6 separate regions of the Homo sapiens genome follow, and all the other regions are linked to region 4. The links come from fine-mapping of genetic effects on gene expression. A gene starts in region 4. Each other region holds a variant in brackets. All regions are shown on one strand. Distances are from middle to middle.

Region 1 (5,228 bases), 95 kb before region 4:
GGGTCTTGCTCTGTCCCCCAGGCTGGAGTGCAGTGGCATGATCACAGCTCACTGCTGCTTCAAATTTTGGTGCTTAAGTGATCCTCCCACCTCGGCCTCCCAAGTAGCTGGGACCACAGGTGTGTGCCACCACATTCTGCTAATTTTTATTTATTTATTTATTTATTTACTTACTTACTTACTTACCTACTTTGTAGAGACAGGGTCTCACCATCTTGCCCAGGCTGGTCTCAAACTCCTGGGGTCAAGGGATCCTCCTGCCTCGGCCTCCTAAAATGCTGGGATTAAAGGTGTGAGCCACCATGCCCAGCCTCAAACTGTTTAAAGATTCCTTTATACTCTTAAAAATCATTGAAGATCCCAAACAGCTTTTGTTTCAGTGGCTTGCATTGATTGATATTGACTATCTTCAAAATTAAAGATGAGAGACTTTCAAAGCACAGAGACACACAAGCACGCATTCCGTCGGCTGTCAGAGGCCAGGGCTGGGGGCTGGGGGCTCTGAAAATCTTTATTTGTACCTTCTGGAGAAAATGAGAGCATCAAGGGCAAACAACATCTCAGTTTGACCGTGAAAAGAATTTGGACTTTGGATTCCCTGAAAGGGTCGCAAGTGGTCCCTGGGCCACTCTCGGAGAGCCACTGAGGGAAGCTGATGAAATATTAATGCAGAAAGGGAGCTGCTCCCTGAATGCTAGGCTGGAAGCTTTGGAAAGTCCCAGCACAGATGAGGGTAATGATTTGGGGAAAATAATCACACAAATAATGAAGGACTCTGCCTCGAGATTGCCTTGCAAGCGCCTTCCAGTTCTCATGTCCCTTTAGAAACACTGAAACCAGAAATCAGTGCTGATTCACTGCTCTGTGGTTTCTGCCACAGAGATGACCCAGAGCTCCAATCAGTGGGCTCATGCTCAGAGAAAAGGTTTTGGCTCCATACCAAAAGGCAGACAAATAGATGTGCTGTACTTCACATATTTGAAGTAAAAATAAAATGTTTAAGAAATGTCTATGTGGTTAAGTAGGACTTCCCCACCCATCTAACTTGCCCAGCTAACGCTGCAATTACGGATGTTGCAAGAACGTTGACTCGACCCAGCCTTCCCCTGCTACGGTAAATGTCCCTCACCCCTCCACCCTCAGGCTGGACACCAGCTCCAAGTCTAATCCTTGTCTTTGACCATTTGGGGCTTGACTTTGCCTTTGACCTTGCCTCCATTGCCTGCCACATCCTTCAGTTAGTGACAAGCACAAGATGGGTCAGATTTGGTGGGTTCCAACACTGGGTCCAGTACTAAGTGTGTGACCTTGGAGCAGTCACCTAACCTCCCTGAGCCCCAGCTTCCTTTTCTGTAAAATGGGAAGTTACACATAAGCATACATATACCCCAGCTCTGTGGGTGCCGTCAGTAGTGATGTCACCATCCCATTGGTACAGTGCCTTTGAGATGGCCCTTCAGCCGTGCTTCCTACTCCCAGCCCCTGTGATCACTCACTTGGACCATAGAAGCCTCAGCCTTAGTCCTTCCATTTCCAGGCACTTCTACCTGCTCCAAATTAATGACCTAAATCCCTGCGCTAACCAATAATTCCTCTGCTCAGAAAATGTCAGTGTGGGAAGCTCAATACACCACTAGTTCAACCAAAGGCATTTACCCTGAGACCCAAACCCTCTTTGACCTTGTGCCCACTTACCTGGGTGGCTTCACCTCCTACTGCTACAACAATCGTGCCTGAGGACCATTGCTGAGGTGACCTGCCCCCACCTCCAGGGTCCAGATGCCATGTGGAGGGTATTACATGCGTGAACCCTTATCGCCATAAGGGCCTGAGTCTGAGTGCATACCCATTCTGCAGATAAGAAAACAGAGGCTCAGTAGCATCAAACCCTCTGCCTAAGGTCACACAGAGGACAATGGCAGAGCCAGGATTGTAGTCCAGGTCTCCCTGACTCCAAAGCCCAGAATGTTCGTATACTCCTTTCCGGAGGCACTGAGACCTTCCCTGCTCTTTTGGCCTTCCCTGCTCCCTGCCCCTGCTCACCCCAGCCCCTCCTCTCGGCATGCCTGCCCACCTTTCTAGATCCTGCCAGTCTTTAGGGCTCAGCTTAACGCCACCTCTTTCCTGATGCCATCTGGGTCACAGCCCCCATGCACCCTGCAGACCTCTCCTCTGCTGGAGGTTCTGACATTTGCACAAGGCCTGCATTCTTCTAGGCTCTCCCTGTTCCTTCCTTAGGAAAGTGAGCCTGGCCCTTACGGTGAGGTCCTCTTTCCCTGCTTCACACTCCAGAGCGGCAGGCCCCAACTTTTTGGCACCAGGGACCAGTTACATGGAAGACAGTTTTTCCACAGTTTGGTGGGGGGGATGGTTTGGGATGATTCAAGCTCATTACATGTATTGTGCACTTCATTTCTATTATTACTATACTGAAATACGTAATGAAATAATTCTACAACTCACCATCATGTAGAATCAGTGGGAGCCCTGAATTTGTTTTCCTGCAACTAGGTGGTCCCATCTGGGGGTGATGGGAGACAGCAACAGATCTTAGATTCTCGTAAGGAATGTGCCACCTAGATCCCTCACATGCACAGTTCACAATAGGGTTGGAGCTGCTATGAGAATCCAACGTTACCACTAGGAGGTGGAGCTCAGGTGGTAATGTGAGCGATGGGGAGCAGCTGTAAATAGAGATGAAGCTTTGCTTCTCACCTCCCGCTGTGTAGCCCAGGACTGCTACTGGCCCATGCCCGAGGGGTGGGGGATTGCCTGCTCTACAGCATCATCACACATGCCTTTGCCCCATCTAAGTTTGTTGAGTGAGTATTATGTGCAGTCACTGATTCAGGCTCTGAGGCTGCAGCCATGAACAGAGTTCCCACCTCAAGGAGCGGAGGTCCCTGATGGGCAGAGGGCTGCTGAAGCAGCAGCAGACACACAGATGGTCCAGTCTCAGGTGACAGC[T/C]GTGAGCAAATCAAGCAGGGAGGCTGGCCATGCAGGAGAGGTATTATTTTGTGTAAGTGGTCAGGGAAGGGACCGTAGTGAGGCGAAGGCACTGGCCTGGCCAGGGTCAGGGAAGGGACCGTAGTGAGGCGAAGGTGCCGGCCTGGCCAGGGTCAGGGAAGGGACCGTAGTGAGGCGAAGGTGCCAGCCTGGCCAGGGTCAGGGAAGGGACCGTAGTGAGGCGAAGGTGCCAGCCTGGCCAGGGTCAGGGAAGGGACCGTAGTGAGGCGAAGGCACTGGCCTGGCCAGGGTCAGGGAAGGGACCGTAGTGAGGCGAAGGTGCCGGCCTGGCCAGGGTCAGGGAAGGGACCGTAGTGAGGCAAAGGTGCTGGTCTGGCCAGGGCCAGCGAAGGGACCGTAGTGAGGCGAAGGTGCCAGCCTGGCCAGGGTCAGGGAAGGGTGTGCCAGGCAGGGCACCCCAGGGTCACAGGCCAGTACAGGGAAGGGCTTGGTGTGCTGAGCATGGCGGTGAGGTCAGCATAGCCAGGGCTGAGGTGAGTGCGGGCAGCTGAGGTCTCAGAGGTCAGCAGGGCAGGGTAGAACCCAGGGAGGGCCTCGAGGGCCATGAGCAGGTCTTGGCCTTTTATCCTAGGTGTGTTGGGGGGTTGGGGAGGGTTTCAAGGAAGAGAGTGACATGGTTTGAAGGACTGCAGGGGAAAAGTGACAGTGGAGGTGCCAGGAGGGCCTTGGCCCCGGCTCTCACCACCATGCGGGAGTGGTGCGGGGGTGGGGGGTGTTGAAGCATAGGTTTCACTGTTATTCGGGTAAAGTGAGACCAACAGCTCAGAAGATTGTCTTTAGCCGGGCTCAGTGGCTCATGCCTATAATCCCAGCACTTTGAGGAACTGAGGTGGGTGGATTGCTTGAGCCCAGGAGTTCAAGACCATCCTAGGCAACATAGCGAAACCCTGTCTCTACAAAAAAATACACAAAGTTAGCTGGGCATGATAGCAGGTGCCTTTAGTCCCAGCTACTCAGGAGGCTAAGGTGGGAGGATCACCTGAGCCCTGGAGGTTGAGGCTGCAGTGAGCCGAGATGGTACCACTGCACTCCAGCCTGGGCATCGGAGTGAAACCCTGTCTCAAAAAAAAAAAAAAAAAAAAAGATTGCCTTTGGCACAATGGTTTGTTACTCACAGTTCCCAAGAGGAAGAGACACACCGGGCTATGTGGGGCCACTGGGAAGCACCGAGGGGAGGAGGCAGAGAGAGCCCTGGGGAAATGGTGAGCCAGAGCCTTTGCTGTGGTTTTCACAGGAAGAAATGGACAAACAGCAACTGGGCTATGCAGGGCTAGAGCTGAGTTTGAATAATTTTATGGGGCTCAGAGTGTCTGGGCTTCCAAGTTTCTGGCCCCTGGCCCGCGGGGCGACTGGGGAGCTGCATTGCCCACTGCAAGTGCTCAGGAAGGGAGATGGTCGGGGTGGGCTGGGATTGGCCGTTTTGCACACAAAAGGTGTGCTCCAAGTGCCTCTATATCTAGGGGTTAGCTAGTCCCGAGAGGGCAGTCCTTCCCAGGCCAGCAAGATGTCAAAGGATCATAAAATACAGAAAATAGTCAACCAAACTAATACAAGAGTGGTCAAGATGAGGGGGCAGAGCCGGGAGAATGGTGGATCCTATGAGGCAGGATCCACCATTGGTCTCCTTACTATGACCAAGTGAGATCACCTTACTATGGTCCCTTCCCTGGCCCTGGCCAGACCAGCACCTTTGCCTCACTATGGTCCCTTCACTGGCCCTGGCCAGACCAGCACCTTTGCCTCACTATGGTCCCTTCCCTGACCCTGGCCGGGCCGGTGCCTTTGCCTCACTATGGTCCCTTCCCTGATCACTTACACAAAATAATAAGACAGGACGGTGAGAGAGTGGCTTGGGAAGGGGCGGGGTGGCTGTTTGGTCAGGGTGGTCAGGTTGACTGGGAAGTGGCTGTCAGCCTGAAGGAGGAAGCTGGGGGCAGAGCCTTCCCGCAGAAGAGATGGCAGGAGCAGGACGGCCGGCAAGATGGGTTCCAGGGTGGGTGTGGGCGAGCAGCGCCCGGGTAGAGCTCAGTGACATGGCCTGCATGGGCTGGTCACTGCGACTGAAGATGGAACCCTGCTGGGGAGGCGGCTTAGGTGGAGAGACAGACCCAAGAGCTCTGAGTCATTAATGCTGGGGGCGCCACCTGTCACGCAGTGGGTGCACCAGCCTGCGCTCAGGGCTGAGGTCTAGGAGTCATCGG
Region 2 (5,228 bases), 82 kb before region 4:
GGCATTAACAGCAAAAATTTCTCTTCCAATTATAAACTGAAGTTCTTGAGAAAACGTATGAAGAGGCAGCAGAGAGAGAGCCAGGACTGGTTAAATGCAGAAAGTGGTTTTGTTTTAAACGCATTCATTTTCTATGTTAAACATAAGTCCACAAGGACAGAATAGGAGGAGGTCAGAAAGATGAAGGTGCTGCCAAAAACTGACTTATTTTTTTCCTTTTGGAAACAGTGACGTTAACAGGGTTTACATCTGAAGAAACTGGAGGGCTGAGTTTGGAGTAAAGGAGAAAAAAAAAATGAAGAGCCTCCATTCTCGAAAGACTGCGGTTCTCTGTCCCAGTGAGGTTAGCGATCGCAACAAGAGTGTTTCAGAAGTGAATGTGGTATGATCACACCTGTGAAGATAGCCATTGAATACAGACAGTCTGTGCAACACGGCGAGACCCCATCTCTAGGGGGAAAAAAAGGGAACGTGAAGTGTAAGTTCCAGCCAGGCCTGTGGCATGACCTCTGGCTTGCTGACTCAGAACCCAGAGGCTCTCCAGAAGGCGGAGGCGGGCAGGGCCAGGCTGCCTTCCCTAGGTGTTCTCTCCACACCCAGTGCAGGCCAGCTGGCTGCATCCCCAAGCTCCAGGACGCTCAGAGCAGAGCTGAATTCTTGAGAAACTGGGGTCTCCAATGGCCTCGGATAGAGGAGCTCTGTGAGGGGTCCATTGCTGAGCTCTCGAACATCACGAAGGAAATTCCAAAATGGTTATAATTCATGTGTGCCTAGAGTGGCAGAGTCCTGGGGTTTTCCATACCATGAGTGAAACAGTTCCCCGCAAAGAGATTTGTAAAATCCTGATGATGACGGCATTGGCGGGCCCAGCACGTGCAGCAACAATTCAGCTCTCACGTCGTCTTCCACGCAAACGCCTCATCCGCGAGGACCTGCGCCAGCCTAGCGTTGAAGGGCCTGTAGAAATCCCGCAGAATCTTCTGTGTGATGGGCCACATGGGCCCCAGGTTCCGGTCCTCGGGACGCCGTGCATTGGATGCGGGGCTCTTGGTCATCAAAGCCTCCTGCTTCTCACTTAAGGGCCCTAGAATAAAAGAAGACGAGTCCCGTAAGGCAGGAGGCATGGCAGGAAGTAAAAGGGACTTTGCAAAAATCCCAGCTATGCTTCGTATTCAGACAGGAGTTTCCTTTAAGAGAACATATTTAGGGATTAAAATTCTTTGGCTGGATCCATTTTGGAAGCACTGAGGGAGGAAGGTGGAAACACCATCAGGAAATTGCGAAGAAATTCTGCGGCGGGTGCAGGATGCCCACCCTCGGGGGAGCCCAGCTGGCATTTAATGATGATACAGCGTCTAAGGCTGACCTCAAGGATTCCCTTCCAATTGCCCTTGGTGGGCTGCTCTCCATGGGTGTCAGCCCGTCCTTGGAGGAACGTGCGGCCTGCCGAGCACAGCCCACGGGTTTCGGTTTTCCTGCTCAGCAGCCCTCTGGAATTCCGCCATCATCGTTTCTACTTCAGGCTGCTCATGCCAAGGTCCCTGGGCCTGCACAGTTTCACCCTGTGCGTCTTGCTGTGAAGTGGCCATAGGGAGGAGGGCTGGGAGGAGGCCACTTGTGCCCAGAGCCCCCACTGGCTGAACCTCCATCTGCAGCAAGGAGATCAGGGAGAAGAGGCCTGCCGGCAAGGGCTGTCAGTCACCCCCACGCCCCGCCCTCTGGAGTGAGGCGAGGCCCTGGAACAGGCTGGCAGAGGTTGTCAGTCACCGCCACGCCCCGCCCTCTGGAGTGAGGAGAGGCCCTGGAAAAGGCCGGGAGGGGCTGTCAGTCACGCACACGCCCCGCCCTCTGGAGTGAGAGGCCCTGAAACAGAACAGCAAGGGCTGCGACCCCAACGCCCCGCCCTCTGGGCCACAGCTTCTTGGTGTAACCCATCACTGCTCAAGCCTCTTTACCGGGGGCTCTTGGGATCTGGCCAAAGTCCTTAGCCCATAGACAGAAAAAGCATGTCCCAGCATCCTAGGGCCATATGAAACACAGAATTGGCCTTACTATCCATCTTGGGGACAAAAGACAAGCTCATTAATGGGACAGAGTCAACATGTGGTCAAATCAAAGAAAGATGATTCTAAGCCTTGGAAGGGAAAGAACTCATCAAACTCCAAAAAAAGGAGAAACAAAATCAAATGATCAAAGAGGCCCAAGTCCCAGTGGCAGGCAGATATATTTTCAGAAATACTCAATTAACCAAGTTCCCGGGCAAGACCATTAGTCAGGGCTGCAGGAGGCGTTCTGGGAAGGAGGGCGGCTTGTTCGAGCCTGCTCAGCCTTTCAAGCCATCCCT[C/T]GGTGCCCCGTCCACATGGGCAGCACTCGCTCCGCCAGCACATGCCTCTGCCAGCCATCACCATAGTCAGCAGTGTGGCCTGTCACCACAAAGTGACTCTCAGGCCCCTGGGGGGGCTGGTATCCACAGGCTGAGGGCAGGCGCTCATGCCCCAGGGGCCCAGCATCCATGATCAGCAGCCAAAACTCAGCCACACGGCTCTGACTCCTGGAATTTCCAAGAATACCGGAGATGATGCAATGATCTGTCTGTTCCCTCCTCTAAGCCCCAAGTCCTCTGCTCCAGCCCCCCGGTGACATCCTGTTGGTCCTACAAAGCTCAGCTCTCAGGCCCTTTCCTTCCATGAAGCCTTCCTCATCCGTGCAGTAGCTGGGATCCCAAACCATCAGCACATACCTTACATGACAGTGCTGACCTTCCCCACGGCATCCTACCTGTCATTCAGTTAGGTGAGCTATGGCTTCCTCCTCTCCCTTCACTAGACCATAAGCTCCCAGAAGGGAAACCATCTCCTTCTCTCCAGAGAATCCCTCACCATACTGTGCACAATGACCTATGTACAGCTAGTGCTCAATAAATGGTACTTAACAGGCCTCCTGAAGGACATCCCCAGGCCTCCCAGCTCAGCCCATTCCCACCCAGCTGACCAGGTCTGCATTTGCCCCAGAGGACTCCCAGAACAAGTCCACGGAGCTCATGCTTTGGCCCGTCAGTCTAAGCACCACACTCATACCTAGGTTCAGAAACTGGAAGACCTTGTGCATGGTGTACTTGACGTTGGATGCATGATCTTCCAGGCGAAGAATGAGAAACTGTTGCTTGTCAAAAACGCTGAGCCAGTCCAGAAGGTACACAGCATAGAGCCCAACCTGGAGCCTCACCTAGGACCACAGAAGAAGGGCATTATTTCAGGAGCAGTTGCCCCAACACCATAGGGCACTTTTCCAAAGTGGTATGGCATTTCACTGTACCACAAAAGAGTTATCCTAGCAAAGTTACTTTCAGAAGCTGGATTTTAACACAAGGTGTTCTTGCTTCTTTATGGGGGGTTTTGTGCTACATGTGCAAAGAATTCCTATATTAGGGGTTGCATTTCATCCTCACAACACCCTGTGGGTAGCGCCATGCCTCCATTTCACAGGTAAGGACTGAAGTGCAGGGAAGAGGTCAAGGTTGTGGCCACCAATGGTGTACATGTTCCTCGCACAATATCCTGGCTGTTTCTCTGTTCCCAGTGTGACCTCTATGCCCAGCACACAACGGGATGTGAAAAATCAACCACAGACACCCCAAAGACAACCTACATGAGTGAAGAGCCAAATGCCTGATGCCAGAGGAACATCCTTGACTGTGAGGGTGTGTGTAATTCAGCATCTAATCATTACTGAACCAAGTACACAGGAGGATGTTTCTATTTAAGTCCTTTCTACTTTCCAGTACCCATTTCCCGGGTCTTCACCCTTCTGTTCCTTCTCTCGTGCCTTACTGCAAGCCGTGTGGTGAAGATTTAACTCTACTCAGAGAGAACTCGGGCCTTTCCCTCGGCTCCTGGGGGTGATGTCTGGGCCCCTGGATGTCCTGCCTGACAGAAGTGTCTTGGTTGGCCTGAGGGCTTTGGTCATAGGCAGGCTAACACTGAGATTGATGATGGGGCCTTGGGCCACATGGTATCAGTTCTGACTCTGGTAGGACTGGAGACTAAAGGTCAGCCACAGCATCTGCATGTGACGGAACCCTAGTAAAAGGCCTGGACCCCCAAGGCTTGGCCTGGCAATACTCCACGAGGATTGCCACATACCATGGCCAGTGGCACTAACACCGTCCATGACTCCACAGGGAGAGGAGGACTCAGAGCTCCGCATTTGGGCCCCTCCTGGAGTCTGCCCCCTGCACTTCCTCTCCCTTGGCTGATTTTAATCTTCATCCTTTCCCTGTAATAAATCATAACCAATAGTGTAATAGCCTCCAGTGTGTTCTGAGAATCCTTCTGGAAAATTACTAAACCTGAAGGTGGGTTGGAGAATATCTCTCCTGAACTTGCAACTGGTGTCAGAAGTGAGAGCAGTCTTAGGAACAGTTTCCTCTAACTCCACAGTTCACCCTAAACTCTTAGCAAAGCTTCCAGAAAAAAACAGCCTCATCCCCTTTTGCTGTGAGGCCCCCTTCTCCAGGGCTTCTCCCCTTGCCTCTTCTCCAAGTGCCCAGGGACCCTGCTCTGCCTATCTGTGTCTGCCCAGAACTTCTCATCTCCCACCTCTCCCCAGTTCACACCACTCCCTTTGTTTATGCCCCATCTACACCTGCCTGAAGCTGATACAGCCTCCTGGCTAGTCCTCCTTCCCCTGGTCTCTGCACTCTCATATGCACCCTGCCACCAGCATGGGCTTTCCAAAGCAGTGATCTGGCCACAGCCAGCCCTGCTTAAAGCCTCCATGGCTTTCTATGTGTAGAAAGTCCTGGGCCTGGCTTAAACTTCCAGCTCATCCTCTCATACATGCAGCACTTCCTGGCTCCCCAGGCTCCTCCCTGGAGTTCCCATTTTTTAGGCAGACACTCTCATGTCACATTTCCTTTCCTGCCCAACTTGACCTGGACCTTGACCTTGAGGGCAGGGACTGTGGCTTCTCCACCATTCCCTCCTTGCAAAGCCTGCACTCTGGCCCTCAACATGGTTCTCGGGTGCAACTGCTGAATACAGTGCTAATAATAAGACAATGAAAGATTGGGCAAAATATGTACAGATGCTAACTATTCTTTTCCCATTTCATTATTTTTCTAACCATGGAGGAGGATGGAGAGGAAGAAAAGCAATTAGAGTGGATAAGTTGCCTTCAAAATTCATTAGCTGTTTCCAACCCACACTGTTGCTACCTCACATGCCAGC
Region 3 (5,228 bases), 32 kb before region 4:
AGGAGAACAGCTCCAGTACCAACCCAGCTTGGCTGTAGGGACCTCAGGAGTGTGCAGAGGTGTGCCAGCCCCCATGCAGTGTATGCACAGGTGTGCCAGCCCCCATTCAGTGTGTGCACAGGTGTGCCAGCACCCATGCAGTGTGTGCACAGGTGTTCCAACCCTCCCCCGTGTGTGCTGGTCTTCCCCAGGAGTGTTTGATGTGCCAGCCCCGCCCCCAGGAGTGTGCAGAAGTGTACCTCCCCCAGGAGTGAGTGTGCAGAGGTGTGTCTGCCCCCCCAGAAACGTGTTGTGCCAGGATCCTCCAGGAATGTGCAAAGGTGTGTCCCCCCCGAATGTGCGAAGGTGTGCCAGGCCCCCCAGGGGTGTGTGGAGGTGTGCCAGCCCCACCAGGGGTGTGTGGAGGTGTGCCAGCCCCACCAGGGGTGTGTGGAGGTGTGCCAGCCCCCCAGGGGTGTGTGGAGGTGTGCCAGGCCCCCAGGGATGTGTGGAGTTGTGCCAGACCCCCAGGGGTATGTGGAGGTGTGCCAACCCCACCAGGAGTGTGCAAAGGTGTGCTTCCCCCAGGGGCATGTGGGCATGTGGAGGTGTGCCAGCCCCTCTACCTCCAGTGTGCAGAGGTTAGCCAGGAGCTGTATGAAGCTGTAAGACAAACTGAAGCTTCCATGTTTAAAATATTCGAAATTTCAAACATTGAAAACATTGTTTTCAAATGAAGTTATATCCACGTATATACTAACTGACACAAAATTTGCAGAGATCCAGCTTGCCTTGCTGGCTGCAAGCTGTCGGGGCCAGCCTGGGAAACCCCAGGGAGCTCTCACTGTCTTTCACCTTTGAGTACGAAGAGGAAAGTTTGAGAAGCACTGGTGTAGGGAGAAAGGGAAAGGAACCAGGATGAGCTGCCATTTTATGGCAGGCATCAAGCTGGGAACCTGCTTCCTCTCATCTCTTTCTGACTTTTAGACAACGCTAAAGGTAGGTGTAATCGCCCCATTGTGCAGATAAGAAAACGGTGGCTCTGGGTGGGGTGACGTGGCTTGCCCTAAATCACACTGTAAGTAAATGGCAGAACTGGATTTAAACACAAGCTGAAGCCCAAACTGCCTCTCACTTCATGGAGGATGGGACATGCACATTCACATTCACTCCCTGATATGGTTTGACTGTGTGCCCACCCAAATCTCAACTTGAATTGTAGCTCCCAGAATTCCCACGTGTTGTGGGAGGGACCCAGGAGGAGGTAATTGACTCATGGGGGCCGGTTTTTCCCGTGCTATTCTCGTGATAGTAAATAAGCACGAGATCTGATGGGTTTATCGGGGGTTTCCGCTTTTGCTTCTGTCTCATTTTCTCTTGCCGCAGCCATGTAAGAAGTGCCTTTTGCCTCCCACCATGATTCTGGGTCCTCCCCAGCCAGGTGGAACTGTAAGTCTAATTAAACCCCTTATTCTTCCCAGTCTTGGGCACGTCTTTATCAGCAGCGTGAAAACGGACTAATACACTCCCCACACAGTTTCCCATTGTTGATTGTGGGTAGCATTTGGGGGGCTATGCTTTCTGTTTACACATTCCATCTTGCTTCCAATTTTACTTACATAGAGCAAGCATCACTTTTGTAACTACAAAGATAATAAAGAAAAAATAATAAATGTTGCACAAAAAATGGTGTGGCAAATAGAAAACGGACTGGGCCTAGGCCTCCAGGACGTGAGTTCACGTCCAGTAAGACACGTCTCTGAGCCTCAGTTTCTTTATCTGTTGAAAATGCATGCACTCCTTGCCTCCCTCGTCAGATCAGGTGAAATAGGGAATTGAAATGAGGCCATAGGACCACATAAGGCAAGGCAGAGGTGGGCTAAAGACTGCGCAAAGCACCAGTGGGAAGCTCTGTCCAAGCTGCACTGTGTCCCCTCCTTTCTCAAGTTATCTTTGAATTAATAACATCTTTCCTCCAGACATACTATAAATCATT[A/T]AAAAAAAAAAAAAAACCCTTCTATTACCATTCAACTCCAAATGACAGGCCTGGGAGTGCAGCCGGGAAGGACATTTTCCCTTGTCTTCTCTGCCACTGCAATGGAAAACCCCAAGCAGACCACAGAATTCCCTGGAGTGGGCATGCATCTTTACACACACGCACAGACCAAAGGAACTCCAGGTCCAAGAGCAAAAGGGACAATGTGACCCCAGAGGATGCTGTTTTATGAATGTTCACCAATGCCCAAAGAGCGTTTGACAGAGGCAGCCTAGGATCTCATCCCATACAGCTGCTGGGCACATAGGAACGGGCACATACCCTTGTGGAAAGAGAAACATGGCGGGGAGGAAAGATGAAAAGCCAAAACCCAGAGGCAGGTGAACATCCACACGTGCCATCTGGTTTGTATCAACCCCTTACCGGCTGTGTGCCCTCGGGCAAACTGCTTTGCACTTCGGTGCCTCCCTTCGCTGATCTGTAGCAGGGAGATTAACGGCAGTACCGACCCCATGGACAGGCGTGGAGATTAGACGGGAAAATCCCCACAAAAATATGCCCATAGTGCCTGCCAACTCCAACTGCTCAACAAACGGCAACCACCACCACCAGCAGCCTCATTTCTTTTTCTTTCCTCCCTCCCGTTTCTGCAAACAGGATCTCAGCTCAACAGTAAGGACTTTGGCCTGGTGTATAAAGACCCAGCCGAGCCGGAATCAGTGGCCGAATACTTTTAAAAAGGATGAAGGGAGCCCGAGGCTCTGACAGTGAAGTGGCTGGCCCTAAATCACACTGCAAGTAAGAGGCAGGGCTGGACTTAAACGCAAGCTGAAGACCTCTCACCTCATGGAGGATGGGGACATGTACTTTCACATTCACTCATCAAGCAGTTTCCCATTTTCAAGAGTTGGGGGGCTTGGCTAAAGCTGCATGCAGACCAGCAATGTCTGAATAAAACTGCTTTGGAGAGGCTGGGAGAGAGCCCTTCTCCACCCTGATGTGGCCATGAAAACGCTGGTCCCACCAAGACACCAGGAGGCAAAGAGAGAGAGATCCAGACAAGAAACTAATTAAAAAATGGTCATTTCAGGCTGGGCGCAGTGGCTCATGCCTGTAATCCCAGCACTTTAGGAGGCCGAGGCGGGTGGATCACCTGAGATCAGCAGTTTGAGACCAGCCTGACCAACATGGTGAAACCCCATCTCTACTAAAAATACAAAAATTAGCCGGGCGTGGTGGCAGGCACCTGTAATCCCAGCTACTCGGGAGGCCGAGGCAGGAGAATCGCTTGAACTCAGGAGGTGGAGGTTGCAGTGAGCTGAGATCGCACCACTGCACTCCAGCCTGGGGGGACAGAGTGACACTCCGTCTCAAAAAAAAAAGGTCATTTCAGACCCTCCTTCTCCTTGTCAATTTCCTCTAGCTTTTTAGATAACAGACCTAGTTTCTGATAACTCCACTCAGATCTAGAATCTAGATTTCCAACCTCTGTAAAATAGGTCAAACAAGTATTTATTTATAGACCTATCACCCAAGACACTGAACTTGGATATGCCCAGTCCATCAAAAATGAATCTTTTTCTTTTCTCTTTTCCATTAGAGACAACCTAAAAGTGTTGATGGGGCATGGCTCGAAAAAAAAAATCTCACTAAGTTTCAGTATTCAGAGCTGGAAAAGTGAACATTCAATAAATATTATAACAAAGGCATGTTCCCCCAGAATACCCACATCTCTCCGGAGCACAGCGAAGACCTTGCTTAAACCACCGCTGTCTTGCTCATCCTGTCAAGAAGCAGGGGCAGCTGCCAGCTCTGGAAGGAAAGCCTTCTTTTGCAGAGAGGTAGAGTAGAGAGGGGAAGGGAGAAGTGAGAGTCAGCAATACAGCGTATGAATCAGACAGCTGAGCTTCCAGCGTTGTTTTGTGTCCTCAGTGCTATGTAAACATGATAATAAAAAAAACTTGTTCAAAAAATAATAAGTGGATCTTGGCTGAGGCACAGTCATCTCCCACAAAGCAAACGATCTATGGTATGAGAAATTAGTAACCTCTCTGAATTAATCACAGAAGAGTGGAATCTTTCTCATAAGATCTGGAAAGAATTCAGGCCTCATTATGAAGGCCAGGACTTTCTTGCAGATAGCAGATTTCCTCCTGGGCTAAAACGAAATCTCAAAAAAAAAAATAGACTTACGAAAAGTCATTGTAGCTGACTGGTTCAAGCTGACTGGTACAATCAAGACCTGCTCTGGTTTCTGTTTCGGAAAAGTAAATATTTGATCAAAGCACACAGTTTTCAGACCTGAAGTCATTTCAGATTAAGTAAGAATTTCGCTTGATGCAGTCAAAGTGCCTGTGTGATGGCCTCCCCATCCCCAAGGCCTTCCCCATCCTTGCAAAGGTACAGCAGTGGCCACGGAGCAGAACGCAAGCCCCTGACTGGGAGTCCATGGGGATTCAGGGTGCGCAGCGTAGGCACAGCCCTGGCGCTGTGGGGCTTGCGGCCCGGGAGACACCACGAGATCATGAAACAACCATACCCACTCTGTGACTTTGGGCAGGTCCCCCAAGCCCTGAGCCCCTCTTCGTTGCTGGGCTGTACCTGGGAACATTCAATCCCCCTTGCAGCACTGCATCCCCCCAACCCCACCCCCGAGCCCCCACTCCTGCTGGCGGCCTTTATCTCGCTGTCTCTGTGTGTCCATCTCTGCCTCTCCCAGCCTCCTTAGCCAGATCCCATTTTCCCCAACACCACTGGCCCTGCTAGATGCATTCGCTCTTGCTCACCCTTCAGATCTCAGGCAAGGACCCCTTCCCTGAAACCCCAGACCACACTGGCCCTGCCCTGATCCTCCAACCCTTCCCACTTCCGTTTTTTGTGTGTGCTTGTCTGACTAGCATCCGCCTTAACCAGCTGACAGTCCTATCAGCTCTGTGAAGGCAAAAGAGTCTCTTCTTTTGTTCGCTTTTACAAAAAAAAGTCCTGAAGAAAATTCTAAAGGTAGGCAGGCAACACACATAAAAACATAGCCCAGTCATAAAGACAGAATGCCCAATACATGTTGGGGGCGGGGGTTAAATTTAAAATTTGGGCTGAGCGCGGTGGCTCTTGCCTGTAATTCCAACATGTTGGGAGGCCGAGGTGGGAGGATGGCTTGAGCCCAGGAGTTCAAGACCAGCCTGGGCAACAAGGCAAAACCCCATCTCTACAAAAAATTTAAAAATTAGCCAGGCATAGTGGTGGTGCCTACAGT
Region 4 (5,228 bases):
CGAGAACTCGGTACAATTAACTTAACCAACGTGAACAAGGCGAAGGCGCCCAGCTGTCACAGCGGCTCCGCGCACGCAGGCAGACGAAGAAGGGCCCCCGCCCCCAGGAGCTGGTCCCAGCCTCCAGCCTGGCAGCCTCCTTCGAAGACTTCCCTACACTGGGCGCGGACCTCCAGCCGCCAGCAGCCGGCAACCCAGCCCCAGCCTTCCTCCTCTATACCCGCCGTCCCAGCCGCGCCGGCCGGCCCCGGGCGCAGGGCGGGCGGGAACGTGGGCACCCGGACAGCGACGGGGAGGTCAAGCAGCTGTGCCCAGGACCCGGGCGGCTCCGAAGCCTCAACACGCACACACTCGCGCGCACGCCGGCCCATCGGTTGCCTGGAGGAGTCGGGAAGGTGCTTCCACGGCTCTTCATTCATTTTCCCAAAGGCAAGGTTCCCTTCGCCCCGGCGCCTCTATCCTGCCATCCCAGGGGGCCAATTGCGCCACAGCCCGCCACCCAGCCACCCACAGCCACCGCGTCCTATCTCCCGGCACACACAACCCAACAGACTCGCATTACATCTCCACCGCCAGCGTCGCCTCCGCGCCCCGGCCGCTGCCATCCGGCTCCCCAGCTTCGCCGCCCCGCAGCCCCGGCTCCCCGCCTCTGGCCTCACCGCGCGGCTCAGAGCTGCCTCGCTCGGCTCGCCGCACCAAGGCCGGCCAGAGACGCCGCCACCGCCGGGAAGCGCCGGCAACTCCCGAGTCACGCCGCCTCCCGAGACGCGGCGGGGCGCAGGGAGGGGACAGCAGTGGGGGCGGGGCGGGGAGGAGGAAGGAGGAGGGGGCGGGGAGCAAAAGTTCACACCGCTCGGGGCTCAGCCGCTCCCCTATCTCTTCCCAGGCCCGCCCCCGCCATCCCCCTTCCCTGAACCGGGTCCCACGGGCTTAGGCGCGGGAGAGCTCTGGCCTCCCCGCCCGGAACCGCCGCAAGGCTAGAGCCAGGGTTCTGGAAGCGCATCCGAGCTCGCAACCGGGGAGAGAGTGGCGGATGCCCACTTACCTGCCCCGGGCCGCGCCTGGAAACTTCCCCAAAGTGCGATAGGGGTGTGGGGGCGGAGCGCAAGGCTGGGGGGAATCCCCGTCCCCTACCGCCAAACGACGCGCGCTCACACCGTGAAAGCACTGGTCTGTCCGTCGGTCGGTCCCCCGCCTGCGGCTCCCAGAGCTGGGCGGTGCAGGGGCGCCCCGATTCCGACTACTGGGCTCCTTCTCCCGGACAGCCCGCCGGTGCGTTCCACGCGGCTTGCGCCCCCCGCCGGCCTCCGGCTATCCACGGCGCCACCACGCCACTGCTCGGTCCCCTGTCCCCTCGCTCCGGCCGCGTCCTCTCTGCGAGGGAGGGGGCGTGTGTCGCCGCTGGGTAACCCTTCCCGCGGGGTCCTCAAGCGCGCAGGGCGCCCGGAGCGCGGCCAGGACCAATGGCGAAGGGACTCCTCCCGCTGGGGATCGCTGAAGCCTCGGGGAGGCCGGGCCAAGGAGCCCGGGGCCCAAACCTGCCTCGGCTCGTCGAGCTCGCAAGTTCATTGTCTGCCTGGGCCGCCGCCGCCACCGCCACCGCCACCACCGCGCCGGGAGCGCCGCGGGGAGTGAGGCTGCGCGCCGCCTCCGCCGGCCCGGACTCCCTACGCCCAGCCCCGGCCGCCGCCGGCGCTGCCTGGCCCGAACCCGCGGAGGGGCGCCGGAGCCCCGAGCCCAGGGCCAGACCTCCTACCGCCGCTCCTCGCCGACCCCACCTCGGCGTCTGGCACCTAACTTGTACCTGAGAAGCCTGAGTCCAGCCCGGGAGCCTCTGCGGCTCCGGCTCCGCGGGAGCGCGCCCAGCCCCGAGCCTCTAGCCCCGCATCCAGGGCGCGTCAACCTGACTCCCCGAGCGCTGGGAGGAAAAGTTTGGGAGTGACGTGCAGACGGCGAATGAAACATCCGAGGAGAACCCTCCCCCCGCCCCATGTCGCGCTGACACACATCAGCTCCAGTCTGGAATGTGAGATCAAGGCGTGTGCGCCGAGCGGTGGGTTTGGCCCCTGCCCCCTCCCCCTCCGAGTCAACACTGCTTGTGTGTTGCGGTGATTCCAAATAAAAGCACATCGAAACCCCTGAAATCTGGCAGTGACACCTTGCCAGATACTTCTTTTTTTTAAAGACAGAGTTTCGCTCTTGTTGCCCAGGCTGGAATGCAATGGCGCGATCTCGGCTCACTGCAACTTCCGCCTCCCGGGTTCAAGAGAGTCTCCTGCCTCAGCCTCCCGGGTTCAAGAGAGTCTCCTGCCTCAGCCTCCCGAGTAGCCGGGATTACAGGCATGCGCCACCACGCAAAATAGGCTAATTTTATATTTTTAGTACAGACGGGGTTTCTCCATGTTGGTCAGGCTGGTCTCGAACTCCCGACCTCAGATGATCCGTCCGCCCCCCCAACCCAAAGTGCTGGGATTACAGGCGTAAGCCACCGCGCCCGGCCGCCAGAGACATCTTTAAGGAACTTGGCGGTCTGGAGCCAGCCCGTACATTAATATTCAAGGCCACAGCGCTGGTGAGTTCGGCGCCCTCTGTTGTATTTTTGCATCCCGGGAAGGCTGGCCCGGCTCTTTGGCCCGGCGTGTTTTGCTTCCGCGGGGGAGGTAAAGCTCTGCAGGACCCCGATCGCCACGGCCTGCCGCAGTGGCCTGGAGTCGGCTGCCCCAGGGAACCACCTGGACAGCCCGAGGGCAAGAAAGCGGCACCAGTGGCCGACTCCACTGACTCTGGGCTGAAGATGCCATCAGTTAAAGAAAAGACACATGAAATTCTGGCAGATTCGCTCAGAGGGCGCTTGGAGCACCAAGCCCAGCCTCTCAGGAAACTGAGGTCCAAGGGACAAAAAGAATCTGCAGTCTCTTGCCGGCCTGTGTCCCCGTGGCCAGAGTCCAGCACCCTCTTCCTCGAAGCAACCAGAAGTGGAAATGAAAGTGCTCCGTTAACTGTAGACTACATGCCACCGAAGGGTCATTCCTGACAGTGGCTTCTCCCCATTATCTCTTTATTGCCGGAGGCTTCATCTCGCCCCCCTGAAGCTACAGTCCACCCTGAGGTCATAAACTTCTGCTCAGCACCCATGGCAACTAATGCAGAGGTCACCATCAGAGGATTATAACTGCAGATGGGAAACCGGGATGAGAGGGGAGTTCTTTAAAATCCTGTCTTGTTTTCCTGCAAATAATGCCTCTTACATAAAATCTGCGAAGAAAGATGAATGCAGCAAAGAGACTTGCCTTAGAATCTCAGACTAGATTGCTTTTTCCATATAGACTCCACTTAGTGATTTTTGTTCTTTATTTTTTTTTTAAACAAAAACCTATTTCTGAAAATACAACGAGCTGCTTTTTGCAGGGTTCACAATTCCCAATAGATGATGATGCCATTTTTCAAGGTCTCACACACGTTGTGGCTTTGGGGCTTATTTATTAGCTCCCAAGAAAAGCCTGCCTTTCAGTGAGGTTTATATACTCGAGTAATTGCATCAGGGGACACAGAGCAGGTTGCTGTTAAAGAGGGTTGGTTGTACATGCGTCTGCAAGGAAGGCCCTGGGCCAGGCAGCTGTCAGACCAGTGTGCAACGGGTTTAAACAAACACAGGGAAGGGTCTGTGGAAACAGCAAGGAGGAAATCCCCTTCTGTAAGGGTGTGTGGAACATTATTCCAGGGCCACACATACTGCCAGGGAATAATGCCTTTCCTCTCCTCCCTCCAAGTAAACACATAACTCCGTTATGGAGATGGCGCTGGGCCCACCCAGATCACTTTCAAATTCAGGTGTCAGAAACCACGGTTGACATGGAGCAAAATTGTTTTTAAGTAAAAATCACGGTGCCGCTTTGATATGAATTCCACCAGGGACTTTCCAAAGGTATTTATACACGTGCCTGAGATTAACTAGAAGGTGATTTTTTTCCTTTCAACCTTAATTTCAAAAAATTACCCAAGAATTGCACTTGAGCCTGTTACTGCAGAGAATTGAAAGAACACCCAAATGCCAGGTCCCTGTGGATGGGTGGAAGGATAGACAAATAAATGTGTAACTGCAAGAGAGGTTGATACCAACATGGTATTAGCAAGTCACGGCTGAAAAAAATGCAGATACCGGCCAAGCACGGTAGCTCACGCCTGTAATCACAACACTTTGGGAGGCCGAGGCGGGTGGATCACTTAAGGTCAGGAGTTCGAGACAAGCCTGGCCAACATGGTGAAACCCCGTCTCCACTAAAAATACAAAAATTAGCTAGGCGTGGTGGCGCAAGCCCGTAGATTCCCGGGAGGCAGAGGTTGCCGTGAGCCGAGATCACACCACTGCACCCCAGCCTGGGTGACAGAGTGAGACACCCTCTCAAAAAAAGAAAAAAGAAAAAAAAATGCAGATACTTTCAGAAAATAAATCCCCGCTTCCCGTGTGTGCACTCTAGGCCCCCACAACTGTGGATTTAAATTGCCTGGGTTCAAATTCTACTTCTGCCACCCACTAGCTGAGCAACCCTGGGCAAGTCACTTCTTTCCATGCCTCAGTTTGAGGCTTCTGGTAGCACCTACGAGCAGTCAATTGAGCTGTTGATCCCAACTCCTCACTCTCCCGTGGTGGTTATCACACGTCTGCATCCTTGTCACAGCCTTCCAGTGCAGGGACTGTACTTCCCCATTCCTTGACTTTGGACTTGCTTTAGACAATGAGATAATGGGGAATATAACTGGATCAGAGGCTTGGAATGTGCTTGCAGGGCCAGACCTGCTTTCCTCTGCTCTGGTGGTCCACCATGAGACGAACATGTTGCTGCCTCTTCCAGAGAGGCTTCAGAATGAACACACAAGGAAGAAACCTGAACTTGATTCGCTGTCTGGAGCCATGTCACTCCACATACAGCAGGACTCAGAGCTGCTTTAGGCAACCTACAGAACATGAGCAAGGCAGGGAAAATGCTTATTGTTGCAAGCCACTGAATGTTGCAAAGTGTTTTGTTACACAGCATTGTTGTGGCTGTAGCTGGCTGATACATGGCCTCAGTGGGCTAGTGTCAAGACTGAAGACAAAGTATTTTAAAAATACTCAGCACAATTCCTAGGACACAGTAAGAGTTGAAAATAGTAGTTCTTATTAGTAATCATTATTATTGCAAGTAGTTTTACCCATGATAGTCACATAATTGAATGTTTGTTAACAT
Region 5 (5,228 bases), 40 kb after region 4:
GGTCACTGGTTTTACAGGTGTGCTACCTGAGCCCCAGAGATGCTAGGCATCCTATACAGTGTCACACGCACTCACAGGAATAGCAGGGCCAGGACTAAGCCGTGTTCTCCAAATGCCATTCCCCTCTCCCTGCCCTAGGAGCTGCCAGATCACTATGAACAAATTCATCTCCTGCTGAGCACCTGCCACCCCTCCTAGAACCTTCCTGGGGGGAGCTGGGAGGCACTGCCTCTTCCTTGGAGTGGAGGGATGAAGAAAAGAGGGACCCCACAGTCTCTGTGCACAGTCCAAGCCCACTGTCATGCACAATGGCTCAGCCCTGAGATGCACAGGGGCCTCAGAGCCTCCACTCACCTGCTGGAGTCAGAGGAAAGTGTAAAGGGACTTTGGAAAATAACCCAGCTGTGGGTGCTACAAGAGAGGCTGCCTTGTCTGAGCAGGAGGGAGGCCCACTGGTCAGGGTTCCAGCCAAGAAGGCCGCAGCTCAGGACACGTTTTAGGACTGGCTTAAGACCTGCTTTGTGAACAGGGAAACCGAGGCAGCCACCCAGGAATGCAGAGCACCCTGATGCTGTGGGATGGTGGAAAGGCCTGGTCACCCAGGGCTCATGGCTAGCACATCAGAGGCAGGACAGTCACATGCTCCCAGGTGCTGCCCCATTGTCTGGGGGGCGGGGTCTGAAGCCTGAGGGACAGGCACCAGCGACCCCATTGCAGGGCAACAGGACGGGCAGGTAGAAAGCTCCTGTTCCTGCTCCCCTTCCCCTGCTTGGCTTTCCCATCTGTCATTCACTCCTCTCTCAGCCTCCCTCATGCTCCCAGATTCCAGGTCACCGTCAGGCATATGCTATGTGGTCCAGTCCCCAGAGGACAGAGATGAACCCAGAAAGCAGGAAAATAGCGAGGGGTGATAGGAGCCTGGGGGTCACGAGCAATGGGATAAGAAGATAAAGAAGGAATCCAAGTAGCTCAAAAAAATGAAGTCAGGAAAAAAGTCTTTTGAAATAGCGTCATTGATAGCATTGCACTCAACATCCTGGGACCTCCCTGCAGATGCTTGGGTGGAAGCCGTTTCTACACTTTTTCTCCTGTCACTTAGCCAGATCTCTCCAGAGTCACTGATATTTCTAGTTAGCCTCAGGCTGAGGCTTGGAAGTTCCTGGATATTAAAAATTAACATGGGCATGTGCGCTTTTCTTAAAGCAAGAACAAGCTAAAGTAGAGAATTTAAGAAGTCAGCTACTGTGTGATCATTTTTCCTGCCCCATGGTTCAAGGGTTTGACATTTTCATTCATTCACTGCACAAATGTTTATCGAGCTATGTGCCTGGCTTGGTTTTGAAGGTAATGGCACCACTTAAAGCTGCTTGGGTACTTCTACATATTTTTAGCATTTGTACACTTCCCAAACCACCAGTTGCTTTAATCCCACAATTTTTCAGGGGAAAAAACAAAAGCATTGTTCCGGCATGAAATACCTGCACAGGGCCAGCCTGGGCAAAAAGGAGAGTAGAGAGTCGGTGGTCACCTGTGGTTACCAACACTGGATCTCTCTACCACGGGGCAGGGGCTGGTGTAGTGGGAAGGGGAGGGGGGCATCTAGCAACCCCACAATAAGCAGCACATGGCAGTTGGAAATCCCTTTTGAAGTTTTGTTTTAGTAGAGGAGAGCTCTGTTATTTTCAATATGCATAATACTTACGGAGAGTATCTGAAAGAAATTAGCAGATTCTCAGGTTTTAGAAACCCATACTTGCAAAACGTGAGTAAATAATCCAACAAGGTATTGCTATCATTCAGGTGTTTTAAACATTTGTTTTTCTTACTCCCATACATGCTGGCTTCCCTCGTGAAGCACTAGTCAAACGACGCAAACGCCCAAGCCCGTAAACACATTTCTGATTATCTGAGGAGGGCTGCATGAAGCAAACTGGCAGAAAATGTCACTTGGACACCTCTAGGAAATGAAGAAACATGGACCTGCCCAGTTAATTTCCAATGCTGTCACTGTTTTGATGACACATCTCAGAGGAGGACGTTTTTCTCCCTTGCAGAGTGTAAATCAACCCGTTAGTCCTACGAAGCTCCCTGAGACAAGGTAGCAAATGTTTCTGCCATTTAAACACTGCCACTGGATGGCCAGAGGAGTGTCCCCGGTGCCTTAGAAGGAGCTACACACTGTCTTTGGACACCCCATGACATCTGTGTGGCTGTCTTCTCAACAAGGTTGGCTGTGTCCTGCTGTCAGCAAGAAGCCCAGGTGATTGGCAGCAGGAGCTGACCCTTCCCTCAAGTTTGGTCACTACTCAGATCTGTCTCCAGGGCCCTGAGCCAGGGAGGACCCAGGCCAGCTCAAACACCACATCCACCTTTCCATCCACAGGGCATGGCACATCCAGGCTGGGCAACATTGATGGGAGCACACCCCCTGGCCCACTGCCAGACCACACACCCACCCCTTTGCTGGGACTGCCCGGGCCTGGATCTGCCTCGAATGAGAATAACTCCAGTCTGCCTCTCCGTCCGGATTAAAACGCCTCAAAGAGGGGGTCTTCCACGCAACCTGTAACCCACTGCCAGGCACGGTTAGTGTTTGTTGAATAGATGTCAGCCAACTGCATGATGAACTTTGTTTCTTCCAGCCAACAAACGGCAATTTTCAAATGTTTTTCAGCTCTTACTCTTGATTTCTTCTACCTAACAGGTAAACAAACATTTGTGGAGCATCTCTAATGTGCCAGGCCTGGTGCCATGCTGGAAATGGGGAATGAATAATTCATGATCTCTTCCTTCAAGGAGCTCAGAGTCACATGGATGAGACAAGAGGTGAGCAGATTGTTTCCATGGGGTGCTCTGTCCCACTCGCTCTTTCCCATGCTTCAGGTCCAAGCCCCAGAGGACCCCTTCAGAGAGAGCATCCTATTTAACACCAG[G/C]TTTCCTGCTATCTTTATCAAAGCACCTATTGATTTATTTCATCAATAGCTATAATTTCTATTTATTTGATTATTTACCTATGTATCACTTGTGTTCCACCAGATAATAAACTCCACAAAAGCAAGAATATTGTCTATTTCGTTCTTCTTTGTAATCCTAGTACCTAGCACCTAGTAAGTACTCCATAAATATTTCCTAAAGAAGGAGTGTGTGCAGTGACATCTCTGACTGCTGAATTAAAACTTGCAGCCTTGCCTGTCCTGACACTCCTTGGACCCCTTCTTTGCTGTGCTTTTTCCTCCAGTAGTTGTCATACAAGTCATTCATGTATATTGTCTACTGACGGCCCTTCCACTCACTAGGATGTACATTCTGTGAGAACAGGGAATTTTTCTATTTTGTTCACTGGTTTTCCCCAGCACCTAGAACAGTACATATAGTAGATGCTCAATAAATATTGTATGAATGAATGAATGACAATACAATGTAGAAGTTAGTAGGAAGATAATTTAGTCTATTATGGGCAGGGGATGTCACAGAAGACTTCCTGCAGGATACTGCACCTGAGCTTATTCTTTATTCTTTTTTTTTTTTTTCCAAGATGGAGTATTGCTCTGTCACCCAGGCTAGAGTGCAGTGGCATGATCTCAGCTCACTGCAAATTCTGCCTCCCAGGTTCAAGCAATTCTCCTGCCTCAGCCTCCCAGTAGCTGGGATTACAGGCTTGCACCACCATGCCTGGCTAATTTTTGTATTTTTAGTAGAGACAGGGTTTCACCATGTTGGCCAGGCTGCTCTCAAACTCCTGACCTCATGATCCGCCCGCCTTGGCTTCCCAAAGTGTTGGGATTACAGGCTTGAGCCATTGCGCCCGGCCAAGCTTATTCTTAAGTCCTAATGAACACAGTGACCAAAGCTGACTCAGGAGGAAATAGAAAACCTGAACAGTTCTATGACCACTAAACAAATTAAATTAGTTTCCACCAAAAACTGCAAGGCCCAGATGGTTTTACTGGAGAGGTCTACCAAACTTTTCATTCCAACTTATGTAAACTCTTTCAGAGACTAGAAAGGGTGAGACCATTTTGTGAAGCTAGTGTAACCTTGGTAATTCAACCAGGTAAAAGCATTTGGGAAAGGAAAATCTCTGGCTAACATCTCTCAGAAGTATGTATGCAAGAGTACTAACAGGACATTAACAACCCAAATCTACCAAAGCCTATAAAATAATAATACATCATCATCAAATTGGGTTATTTGAGAAATAAAGATGGTTTATTATTAGTAAGTTATTGGTAATTTCACTATATTAAGAGATTAGAGGCAAATATTGGCATCTTATTAATGACAGAAAATGACATTAGATAAAATTTAACCCTCATTCATGATAAAAGTTCCTGGCTATTTAGAAAAATATGGTACTTTACTTAATCCAACAGAATAAATTTAAAATAGCTACATAAACATCATATTTGATGGTAAAGCACTGAAAAACATTCCTTTTAAAATTATAAAATAGGCAAGAATATCTGAGATCATTGCTTTTATTCAACCAAAAAAGTTGACTCATTTGGAAGGGGGAAGGGTTGACTATTAGATAAATGGTGCTGGGAAAATTGGCTATCCACATAACAAATAAACTGGATCCCTACCTCAGATTATATGGGAGAAAAAAGACAAAAAGCATAAATCATAAAAGAAAAAAATAGAACAATTTAAGTAAATAAAAAAAATTTTGCTAATCAGATACAAATAATACAAAAATGTTTTGTCAAACAAAAAAAGGCAAACCACAAACAGGGAAAAAATACTTGCAATATATCACCAACAACAAAAAAAAATTGCCAGCCATAGGGGTGCATGCTTGTAGTCCCAGCTCCTAGGAAGGCTAAAGTGGGAGAATCCCTTGAGTCCAGGAGTTTGAGGCCAGACTGGGCAACACAGCAAGACCACCATGACCCTGCATCTCTTTTAAAAAGATTATCCAAAATATATTTCAAATCACTAAAAAATTATTAGAGGCAAAACAGAAATAGAGACAAAAGTTATACACAGGCATTTCACAGAAGAAGAAATACAACAGTCTGCCTATAATCGGGAAAATATCAAGTCAAAACTACAATGGGATTCCATTTTACATCCATTTACTGTCAGAATTTGTAAACCTGTCAATAGAAAAGGTTAGGCAACCATGTAGACTGAAGAGAAATGTTTTATATACCACTGACCAGCATATAAACTGCTCTATTTTAACAAATTATTTGGCAACATACGGTAAAACTGAAGATATGCTG
Region 6 (5,228 bases), 52 kb before region 4:
ACTGTTCATCACAGAGCATACTCTAAGACTAAAAGAGAGAGGGGCTTTGCCACAGGGCTCACACGCCCTGTCTCCTGCGAGGCGACTGCTCTGCACGCAGCTGGCGCCTACTCAGTGCAGCCTGGGTGAACGGGAACTGGGTCCCAGCCAGTTTCACATTTCATCATGGTCCTCACGAGTGAAGGATGTAAATGGCAAACACACGTCCCAGCACAGAGGTGATGCCAAGACACAGGCAGGCATTCCAACAGCACAGACTCTCTCAGAGGATGAAGCCAAATTTCCTGAGGGTTTGAGGAGAGACAGTGTGTGTGCGTGTATGTGTGTGTGTATATGTGTGTGTTTAGGAAAAAGGAAATTCATCAATCAGCTCTACACTTGATTTCCTGACAGTTTGCCAAGGACCACAGGACACATCTGAAAGTTACTTATCTGGGGAGAGACTGAGCCAGATGACTGAGTCTCTTTGGTCAGTGACAAGTGTATCATATCCCTGCAGGCCCCTATCATTTCTGTCGGATGCGTAATCACATCCAGGTGAACAGCTCTGTTCTGGCCTTTTGTTCTTTCTTTTTTTAAAGAGATAATACCCTAGGATACAGAAAAAACGAGTCAATCAGAAGTCCCTTGAAAATTCTACTCACAATGAATAAGAATATAAAGGACAAGTGAACTCTCTAGCTAAATTGGCACAAATTCTGTCAGATCTCAAAAATGAACTGGTTTTAGAGCCATGGAGGCGTTTGTCCATCCACCTGACTGTCTTCCTTCCATCCAGCCACCATCCATCCTTCGTCCATCCAGGAAGCATTAACTTAGTGTCTAATCCGTGCTCAGCATTGTGCTTGGCACCAGGGACAGATCAGGGGAGGAAAGCACGGCCCCTCCTCTCTCGGACCTTAAGACATAAGGGGGACGATGGCAATTCAAGAAACAAAGAGTACCACGATGGGTACCTGGGAGTAGAGGCAGGAGACTTTCAACATGTCTAAAGCTCCGGCCTCAAGTTCAGCCATCACGTTCAGGCCACTTGAATCCTGAACCTCTTGTGTGACTCTAGCTGTCAAAAAGACAGCAGAAGAAAGGTCCTCTCTGACCTAGGGGCCCAAGATGATGAAAGATCCTGCTGTTTCTGCCCCGAATCTAACAAAGAGGAAGCGCTGGGGCAGAGCTGAGTCACATTTCAGAGCTGGAAGGAGTCTAGAACTGACCTGGTCCAACAATCCCACTTTGCAGAGGTGCAGACAGAGTCCAGGAACAGGAAAAATGAACGGCCGCAAGGCACAGAGCTGGCCGCTGGCCCAAGCAGGGCTAGATACTTGTCACACCACAAGACTACCATAGAACTCACCAAACTCTGCTTTAAGTAAATATCAGCACAGTGATTTTATTTTTCATTCTTTTTAAAATCTTGGAGCAAGCAAAATTAGGAGACCAAACTGAGGCTTTCCTTTTTCATTCATTATCTTAGTCTCTGTTTCCTGGCCGGAGAATACATATTTTCATCTCTTTCATAAGAACATGTGATTTTCCCAGAGGCATATGGTATAGGAGTCACAATGAAATGTAAGTCAGACTTGAGATTTGGGGAGTTTGGACTCCCAAGTTTGCAAAAAACTAGATAACAGCCAAATCATACTGGAGGTGACTCCCAGTGACTTAATTTCTTTGAGTTTAAAAGAAAAAAAAGAGTTAAGTCAGGACTTAGGCACATAAGTCTGTCCCCTTGGACAGGAGAGTCTTAAGTTAAAAAGTCATCTTTCGAAGGGCTGATTATAATTCCTCTTAGTTGCTAATAGATTTATTTAATTTGGAGATTGCAAATATAACAGATCTAGGAAAATTAAAAAATAGATCACTATCTAAGGTAAACAATTTAAGCAAAACGTGACTCAATTTCTCTTTTAGAAGGCATCAGTGGATAAACGCCTTCTAAGCTGAATCCAATAAAAAGAATTATGTCAGGCAAATAACAAGTCTAGAGATCTAAGGTAGAGCATGTGCACTGTAGTTATTAATCCTATTAATCCTGTATTGCATGCTGGAAATTTTCCAAGACAGTATATTTCAGGTGCTTTTACCACACACACGCCCCCCTCCCCACACACAAAGGTAACTGTGAAAAAAACATGGCTATGTTAATTTGCTTTACTGTAGCAATCATTTCACTGTCTCTATTTCCATCGAAACATCACAGTATGCTGTACACCTTAAATTATACAATAAAAAATAAATTTTAAAGAGTAAATATGTATGTTTACTTATAAAATATTCTTGTGAATATTTAAAACAAATTATTATTAATCAACCTCACTTTGAATGCCCAAAGGCATGAGGTTGACAGGGGCTAGGCTTTTTAAACAGCAATTAGTTATAGGCGATGTGTCAGAGCTGAGTCTATTTCAGGAGAAGCTGCCTCCGTCTTATATGGTCCCAGTGGCCAGGGATTACAAAAGCCCCAAGCAGCAAATCGATGACTAACCAGTTAACTGCACTTATAATTCCCCCATCCAAACTTATCAGATCAGTACATCAGGAAAAGAAGTCAATATCCCTGCTTAATTTCTTAAAAACAAAGAAATGGCAACTTCTCAAGAAAGCCATCAGCTGTCCTTAAGTCTCCAAAGAATTAGAAAGTCAACATTTCCACTTTATAGTAATGTTCAAGTGATGTGAACATTTTATGTAGTGGTAAGAGTGACAGCCAGGTGGAGAAGTGGAGGCTCAAAAGAAGTTTGCTGCCACCATGTAAATGTTCTGGAGGTGAAGCAGAGCTGGGCTAGGCCTGGAGCCAGAGCCAGGACCCCAGGGAGGGTGCTAGCCCTGCCAGAGTGACACAGA[C/A]GCCTTACCGATAATGATTGTATTCATCTTGCTCTGCTCCTTTGCAGAGCTGGCCTGCAGTCCTTGATGGATCTGGTGTGCGGCCAGGTCAAAGAGGTCCAGATAATCTTCCACGGGATAGCGGTCTCGCAGCCCATCTCTTAGGCGGACGATTCCTATGAGAACCAAGAAGCAGGAGATACTGAGGACAAAGTTGCTACTGCTGGAGCGATGGCCTCCCAGACAGCAACCAAAGAGAGATGGAAAGGCCTAAAGGGCCTGGCGACAGCAGCAAGAGGCTCAGCCCAGGTAAGCTTCAGAAAGGGCTGCTGGGGATGGGGGTGGGGGTCTATGCGGCCTGGCTACCCACTTCAATCCATGCATGCTTCAAGGGCTGGAAGATACCACCACTAAGCTAGACAGTGGCAGATTAAAGGCTGGAACACCTACTCAAGAGCTAGAAACATGTCTGCTTGGAGGGACAAAGTCTGGGGCTGGTTAACTTGTGCACAGGTGGGACTCGTAAGTGGCTGGGCAGCGATGACACCCAGGATGCATGTGTTGTGTCAAACAGGGAGAGAGGACCGAGGGCTGCCCACAGGAGAGAGAAGGGCAGTATCCTATAAACTCCATGATGCCTTCCTCATGGGGCCCAGCCAGCACCTGCCTGATGTTCTCTCTCCTCCCCCTGTTCAATCAAATACCCTGCCCTTTGTCCAAACAGTAAGGGGAACTGATCATACTCTAGACAGACATGGATTCTGGCATCGGCCACATACAGCTTAAATTCACCCCCTGCCTGAAAAATAAATAAATTTCACTTGCAAACATTTAAAAATCCACTTCCCAACACCACAACTCCTGAAGTCAATGGAAATTGGAAAGAGAACATCCGTGGCCAAAGTAACAAGAGGTTCAAGGTGACATTGAAGACTAGATTCCAGAGGCCCGCCTCTGTTCTTCCTCCTTTCCTGCCGGTAGAAAGCTGGTTTTCATTAAGGGGAAATCACTGTGAGCCTCGGGGGAGCACCCTACAGCAAGGGAGTGTGTTCAGACACGTCCAGCAAATGCATAGGGATGTGAAACCCTGGCTCCTACAGTGGCGGCTGCTAAACCACAAAAGAAACATTTACACTTTAGCTCACTGTAGGACGAACATCAAAAGGATGAAAGCAAACGTTTGTCAGGAAACACATTAAGAGTTGGTCTAGGGAAAACTTTGAAGATTCCCTTCTAGTCAACCTGAGTCCATTACTGGAAAACACCCTCGTGGCCTGCCAGGACTCTGGTTGACAATAGGCACGTATCACCCCTCAGCTCCAGTGACCAAACCTCTCCTGGCACAAGGAAAAGGTTACAGAGAGGAAACAGTGATCTGAGGACCGCAGGGTGCATGGGGTTAAGCTGGAGCAGAGAGGGATGGGCAGTGGTCATGGTAAGCCTGCGGCAAAGGGCTGAGAGCAAGGCCTCCAGAATGATCTCCATGTGGTTATCATATGGAACCCATAAGGCAGATGGGGCAGGTCAGAGAAGCTGAGGCCTGAAGCAACTCAGTCTCCCCCAGGTGCAGTGACTGCAGCTGGAACAGCACATAGCTGAGAACAGCACAGAGCAGAGGAACAGCACAGAGCAGGGGAACAGCACAGAGCAGGGGAACAGCACAGAGCAGGGGAACAGCACAGAGCAGGGAGCAGCACAGAGCAGGGAGCAGCACAGAGCAGAGGAACAGCACAGAGCAGGGAGCAGCACAGAGCAGGGAGCAGCACAGAGCCAAGGAACAGCACAGAGCAGGGGAACAACACAGAGCAGGGAGCGGCACAGAGCAGGGAACGGCACAGAGCAGAGGAACGGCACAGAGCAGAGGACCGGCACAGAGCAGGAAACGGCACAGAGCTTGGGAGCGGCACAGAGCTTGGGAGCGGCACAGAGCTGGGAGCGGCACAGAGCAGGGAATAGCACAGAGCTGGGAGCCAAGAGCCCGGATCACGCCCTTCTTGCTGGCCCTTACTGGCCACTGGCACTTACTGCTGACTGCTCGGGTCATGTGCCCGGGCTTTCGGAACAAGAAGAGCTGCCAGTTCTGACTCGTCCCCGTGTCCTGCACACAGCTGGCAATCAATGCTCACTGCATGGCTGGGAACCGAGTTCCAGACCCTGCTGGGTCTTTGCCTGGGAACAGCCTCCTAACAAGGGAATTGTGCCATCTCTTTCTGCCGCCCTCGCCCCCCAACCCCAGCGCTAACGTTGCGGGAGGAATGAACGAATGAAGGAACGAGACCAGACAGGAGCCCTGGGACCCAGCACTCACCAAAGCGCTTCCGGGTCCACCAGTGTGGCTCCTTGATGGCGGAGAACTTGACCTCAGGGTGCAGCCGCAGGCGGTCATAGAGGTCTGTGGTCCCGCACTT

Direction of the effects. Positions count from the first base shown, and alleles are read on the strand shown. Sizes are in standard deviations (SD) of each study's normalised expression. Not every link is listed here.
With allele C in place of T in region 1, the expression in tibial nerve of the gene that starts at base 1,934 in region 4 is higher (moderate effect, 0.63 SD a copy in GTEx).

What was found.
Region 1: its variant is fine-mapped to the expression of CHST15 in tibial nerve (GTEx, PIP 0.96).
Region 2: its variant is fine-mapped to the expression of CHST15 in whole blood (TOPMed, PIP 0.93).
Region 3: its variant is fine-mapped to the expression of CHST15 in whole blood (INTERVAL, PIP 0.90).
Region 5: its variant is fine-mapped to the expression of CHST15 in whole blood (TOPMed, PIP 0.94).
Region 6: its variant is fine-mapped to the expression of CHST15 in whole blood (TOPMed, PIP above 0.99).

What each region holds. Positions count from the first base shown.
Region 1 is chr10:123,996,684-124,001,911 of GRCh38, forward strand. No RefSeq gene overlaps it. Among named protein-coding and RNA genes, the nearest start is that of CHST15, 94 kb to the right of the region's middle. The variant T/C (reference allele first, on the strand shown) is at 2,968.
Region 2 is chr10:124,009,256-124,014,483 of GRCh38, forward strand. It overlaps CHST15 (carbohydrate sulfotransferase 15), which reads right to left. Exons shown (of 8, transcript NM_001270764.2): 7 at 3,078-3,225; 8 at 1-1,084. The coding sequence ends at 894. Among named protein-coding and RNA genes, the nearest start is that of CHST15, 82 kb to the right of the region's middle. The variant C/T (reference allele first, on the strand shown) is at 2,345.
Region 3 is chr10:124,060,037-124,065,264 of GRCh38, forward strand. The region is part of intron 1 of CHST15 (carbohydrate sulfotransferase 15); the gene reads right to left. Among named protein-coding and RNA genes, the nearest start is that of CHST15, 31 kb to the right of the region's middle. RefSeq lists an enhancer at 1-479. The variant A/T (reference allele first, on the strand shown) is at 1,976.
Region 4 is chr10:124,091,665-124,096,892 of GRCh38, forward strand. It overlaps CHST15 (carbohydrate sulfotransferase 15), which reads right to left and starts at 1,934. Exons shown (of 8, transcript NM_001270764.2): 1 at 1,805-1,934.
Region 5 is chr10:124,131,991-124,137,218 of GRCh38, forward strand. It overlaps LOC105378536 (a long non-coding RNA gene), which reads right to left. Exons shown (of 4, transcript XR_946428.3): 4 at 1,801-3,356. Among named protein-coding and RNA genes, the nearest start is that of CHST15, 41 kb to the left of the region's middle. The variant G/C (reference allele first, on the strand shown) is at 2,934.
Region 6 is chr10:124,039,452-124,044,679 of GRCh38, forward strand. CHST15 (carbohydrate sulfotransferase 15) reads right to left here. Exons shown (of 8, transcript NM_001270764.2): 3 at 5,129-5,228; 4 at 2,850-2,996. Among named protein-coding and RNA genes, the nearest start is that of CHST15, 52 kb to the right of the region's middle. RefSeq lists an enhancer at 3,784-4,023. The variant C/A (reference allele first, on the strand shown) is at 2,842.